2 separate regions of the Homo sapiens genome follow, and region 2 is linked to region 1. The links come from fine-mapping of genetic effects on gene expression. Tissue or cell type: fibroblasts. Region 1 holds a variant in brackets; the other region holds the start of a gene. All regions are shown on one strand. Distances are from middle to middle.

Region 1 (2,844 bases):
ATTTATTTTTGGCCATTTCATCTTGTTCCATTGACCCTCCACATATCAGCACCACATTGTTTTAATTATTGTAGCTTTATAAGATGTTTTAATATTTGGTCATGCTGACTCACTCAGGTTTCTTCTTTTCTAGATTTTTCTTGGATATTCTTGCCTCGTAGTTTCCAATAATTTTTTTTTTTTTGAGACAGGGTCTCACTCTGGCTGCCCAGACTGGAGTGCAGTGATGTGATTTTGGCTCACTACAGCCTCGACCTCCCAAGGCTTGGGTGATTCTCCCACCTCAGCCTCCCGAGTAGCTAGGACTATAGGTGCACACCACCACACCCAGCTAATTTCTTGCATTTTAAATAGAGACGGGATTTCACCATGTTGTCCAGGCTGGTCTGGAACTCCTGGACTCAGGCAATCCACCTGCCTCGGCCTCTCAAAGTGCTGGGATTACAGGAGTGAGCCACCATGCTTGGCCTTCATTAAATTTTAAAATCATTTCAATGCTATTGGGGAAAACCTGTTGGCATTTTTATTGGGATTACACTGAATTTATAGATTAACAGTGAAAATTGATATATTTATAATTTTTAATCTTCTTATCCAAAAACGTGGTCTGCTTTTTATCTGTTTAAGTTCTTTTTTGTGCTCTTTAGTTTCATTGTATAGTTTTATTGTTGCAGAACTTATATTTTCTTGTTGCAGTTATTCTTAATTATTTTATCTTTTTGTTGGAATTATAATATGGCTTTTTCTTTCATCGTATTTTCTAACTACATGTAGTCTGACATAATAGGCAATTAGAAAATAATATGTATAGACTTAACCTTATGTTTCACTAATTTATTTGTTCTCCTTTCCTTCTTAAAACCACTACTTTCTTCTCAATTCATTTTTTCTTGTTATAGTACGTTATTCATATACTCTTGCTAATAGCCCATCCCTATATGAATAGTTTTTCTGACTTGGAACAAGTAGGAAGTTTTTTAAAAATCACTTATAGTCCATCCCTGTATGAAGATGAATACTATAAGTACATTATTCCTACTTGTTCCAAGTCAGAAAATCTATTTATTTTGCCCTCGACTCTGAATGATAGTTTGGGGAGAGAAGTCTAGGTTTGATGTTGTTTTTCCACAGCAGTTTGAATATGCTACCTGTATTCTGCTTACGTCTACCCTTG[C/T]TAGTGAAATAGTTATTGTCAAATTCACACTTCTTTTTGTAGATTTTCCAAACTTTTTCTTTTAGGATTAAAAAAGAATCTTTGATGTTCTGAATCTTGATTGTAATGTGTTATGCTTGACCTATATATTCTGCCACTATTCTGGAAACTCTTTTAGTCAAAAGAGGTATGGTGGTGGTGATTTTACCCCCCAAGGGACATTTGGCGATGTCTGGAGACATTTTTGGTTGTCACAACTGACAACCAACCCTGGGGTAGGGGAGGGAGGGTGGTGGATTTGCTACTGGCGTCTAGGGAGTAGGGCCAAGGATGCTGCTAAACATCCTACAGTGCATAGAGAAGCCTCTCACAATAAATGGTTGTCCAGCCCAAAAAGCCAGCAGTGCCAATGCTGACAAACCCTGAGGTATGGGTTTTTTAGTTCTAGGCTTTGGTCTGGCCAACTGGGGGCAAAATGAATTTGGCTTCAGCCTCAGGGCAACACTTTCTGGCTGGGAGATTCTGTCCTGGCTTTGTGACAACGGTTGTCCTGGCCTGTGGTGGTGCCAGCCTCAGTGTATTACCGTGGTTTACCTAGATTTTCCCTACCTGTACCAATGACTCATAGGTTTTAGTTCATGGAGAGGCGCTTTTCTTGGTTGTGAGGATGGCTATGCATATGGCAATGTTTTGAAATATCTTCCCCATTATTTCTATGAGTTTGTTTTAGTAGAGGGCGATTTCAGCATGTGACCTTCAAGGTCTTTATGCAAAGGGGCAAAGTCAATAAAATTAATTCTAGCAATACTGAAAGAGAAAAGGAAGCAATAAATCACTCATAAACTCATCAACTAGAAATATTCAAGGTTAATAATATTCCAGAAAGCTTTTAAAAATATATCAGAGAAAATATAAGAACAGCTAGATAGAATTATGTTAAATCGAAGGATATGATACATAATATTTTAAAATTATTTTTATGTTTATTTCACTTGAACAAAAGAAAAAGCAACTAATAAAATTGAAGGAAGAGCTGAACTACCGAATATTTTTCTTTAACTCAAGAACTTTCAGTTACAGGAAGATTTATCTAATATTAAAATGACTAAATTACAAAAAGCATAAAATGTTTGAAGCCATTTTTAAAGTTGTTTTGAAATCCATATTAGCACTCAGACTTCCCCACTCCCTAACTTTTGTTAATTGCTGTAATGGACATTTGTTGTTTTGATCTACCCAACATCCTTTCATCCTACTTTGGTAACTGATATTCTTTGGGGGAACTGATCTTTCCACTTTACATCATGTTTTGTGGAAATTTTTCAACTAAGGAACCTGCCCTATGCTAGCTAAGAGTTGAGTACGGTATGCAAACTAAATAAGTGCAACTCTCTCACTGTAATTTAACCTCCTTAAATCAAGTAAAGAAAATGACTGTGGCCAAGTCACCCCTGCTACCTAGGTCCTTGTAACTGCCCAGGCACCTCTCCCTTCTAAGGCCTATTTGGTCAGCTTGTCATTTTATTCTATCAGGTCCTCCCTAATGATTCCAATAAATTATTTTTGTTTGTTTTTTTAAAATGATCCAAACCCTGGTTTTATGGATTGAAACAGAAGAATCTATCTGATATAAAAATATTTTTACTTTGTGAAGGTTTGTAACATTCTTTTCTGTAATTATAATTCCTATA
Region 2 (2,672 bases), 28 kb after region 1:
CTTGGCTCTAAACCAACGCCCTCCCACCCGCTATTGGTAGGGGAGGGGAGGAACTATTGAAAAGTTCCCCCCATCCTCCCTCAAGCATCCCTTCCTGCCTGCACTAGTGACAAAGGATCCCCTTCTGGTGCAACCGAGCCCCTCAAGATTTCAGCACCCCAACATTTTTAGTGATGAAACCATGAAAATTCCGATGAGGCCCTTGCTTATTTGCATATGTTAACTACCCACTTTTTGCCCAATATTCCTTTTTCTAGCAATATAATTATAAACTGCTGATGCACCGTTTCTTTGTCAAGCAGGAGGATATAGCTTCAGAGTCAAGAAAAAAATTTTGCAGAAGGAATGAATGCCTTTAAGGGCATTGTGACCAGCTGCTGACGCCCAGAAGTCTGGTGGTTCAAGATGTAATCTGAGACGAAGAAAGACTTTTCCCCGAGGTTCCCTGAAATTCCCCCTCCCTTACTTCCTGGTCTCATAAAAACTCCCCACTACTTCTTTTTGTTAGGGTGGATTTGAGAGATCTTGACCTCTTGCCTTCTCGCTTTGGCCAAATGGAATAAATCTTCCTCTGTCTCCAAGCATCTGTGTGTCAGTGTTTGGCATCAACAGCACATCAGGTTCCTGAGCCTGAATTTGGGCTTCGACAACTCGGGCTCCCGGGACACATGCAAGAGGGAAACGGAATCACACCGCAGTCTCAGCCACTGCGGATATGACCAACTAGGGCTCTAGTTAGTCACTGTATGGGGGATACAGGGCTTTGTGGGCTACCCTAGTAGCCTGCCCCTGTTGTTACAGTTTGAAGACTGACGTTCCAAGCCAGGGGCTTATAGGCAAGCCTCTGGAACAAAGCCTCTTGTAATAGACTGGACATTGGCCCTATTTGTCCCCAGGCCACAACCCATTTAACTTCATCCTCGGGAGCCCCGATTTCGTCGTTTTCCCTTAAGTCCTTCGTGCTCCTGAACCGTGGGGAAATGTTGCCAGGTTTGGTTTGCTAAGATGTAGGCTGCGCTGGGTCGGCGCCTCTCCCTCCTCCCCAGCTCGCCCCGCGTTCCGAACCTCCCAGCTCCCGGGTCCTCTGCCACTAGCTGTCGTTGGAGGTGCTCCTGAGTCAACAAACTAAATCTCCCCAGCGGGAAAGACTCTCTCCCGGCAGCGCCCAGACCTGGGGAGCTGCAGTCGCCGCACCTTGTCTTCACCACAGCCCAATAGGAGAACCCGCGCAGACCGGGGGGAGGTTTGGGGAAGGCCTGGGCAAAGAAGCGCGGGGGATTCATTACCCGCTGGGTTCTCCTCGGCAGCGCGTCTCCCTCCGGGAGCAGGCAACGGAGCCTCCCAAGTCCAGAGCAGAGAACCTGACCCGGCGGGATCCCGGGCTTATATCAGCTGAGTTCCGTGACACCTCCCGGGGCGGGACATCGCGCAGGAGACAGACAGAGGTACAGCCCAATCGCATCGTTACGTGGAGCCGGAAGCCCACTCTTGCAACTACAACAGTCTTGGTAAACCTTGGGTGGACTGGGGAGAACTGAGGAGGGGAAGCGCTTTTTTGTTGCTTCTCTGTGTTTTCTATTTTATTTTATTTATTTTATTTTTAGATTTTCAGTTCTTATTTCACCCAGGGAAGGAGACCTGGGTATCCACCCCATGTCCTCCAGAGAACTTCCCTGGCCCCGCTCGGAGTCTTCCTGGGACGCCACAGGCTCGGAGAGCGCTCCGCAGGTTTCTCCCCCGGCGCCTCCAAATCTTTCGATTCCTACTCGAATTACTCCGTCAGCTGCTGGAAGAGGGGCAAGGGGTATGGCGAGACGCGTTGGTACATGGGGCACTGGGGGGAAGGGAAAGCCTCCCTCCTTCTCCTAGTAATTCGAGAATGTTGCGTCCGCCTCCTTTCTTTTGCTGGCGCTAGGGGCTCGGACCAGCACCTGCCAGGCATAGGTGTGGCCACTGGGGCGAAACCTGGCAGGCTCTGGAAACAGCGTTTTACTGACAGGAAAGAGAAACTGTTCTTTGTATTCATCACCCACCGCAGACTTCCTCACGCCCGGGTCTTAGGCGGGGCTGTCAGATTTCAGTGTGTTTCTCTTAATTCTAGTACTAAATTTGTACTGGGCGCTGGCGAAGGGCCTGGCTCCGCCACGCGCGGCCCTCTCGAACTGCCCGTGGGTACGGCGCGCGCTGCTGCCCTGTGTGGCCTGTGCGGGGAACCCGAGGGCCGAAGTGGGCCCCGCCGCAGCACAGGGGGACAAGAGAACCAGGAGCGGGCTGCCTGGGGGCAGATTCGAACCCGTGCTCCCAGCGGATAGAAGTAGCACTTGGGGACTCCTAAAATATTCAGCCCAATCCTGATTCCAGCTGCCCTCTCTAGGCACCTTTCCTCTACCCTTCTTCCAGTTTACAATTCTGGTGAGTAGATGTTTCTCTATCTCTTCTCTTCCAACTCCTGCGCCCAGAGCCAGGAGGACTTCTGGAGCCCGCCCAGCAAGACCCTCTCTCTCCCATCTTCTGCTCAAGGGCTCGAGGTCTCAGTGGACAGAGCTGAAGAAAAGCCGTCTATGGAGCCTGCGCCAGGCGCAGACTGGGTCGTCGCAGTCTGGGTCGTCGCAGTCTGGGCCGGGGCGCTGGAAGTCTTACTCACTTCTCAAGAACCCGCAAGGGATCAGGCC

Evidence for each region. PIP is the estimated chance that this variant, and not a neighbour inherited with it, causes the effect.
Region 2: it holds the start of SLFN5, and the variant in region 1 is fine-mapped to the expression of SLFN5 in fibroblasts (GTEx, PIP 0.95).

What each region holds. Positions count from the first base shown.
Region 1 is chr17:35,269,373-35,272,216 of GRCh38, reverse strand. It overlaps SLFN5 (schlafen family member 5), which reads right to left. Exons shown (of 5, transcript NM_144975.4): 5 at 1-2,844. Among named protein-coding and RNA genes, the nearest start is that of SLFN5, 28 kb to the right of the region's middle. The variant C/T (reference allele first, on the strand shown) is at 1,175.
Region 2 is chr17:35,241,758-35,244,429 of GRCh38, reverse strand. It overlaps SLFN5 (schlafen family member 5), which reads right to left and starts at 1,358. Exons shown (of 5, transcript NM_144975.4): 1 at 1,287-1,358. It overlaps LOC105371932, which reads left to right and starts at 279. Exons shown (of 4, transcript XM_047437262.1): 1 at 279-319; 2 at 1,211-1,508; 3 at 1,605-1,804; 4 at 2,460-2,672. The coding sequence starts at 279. RefSeq lists enhancers at 315-943, 917-1,026, 1,547-1,606.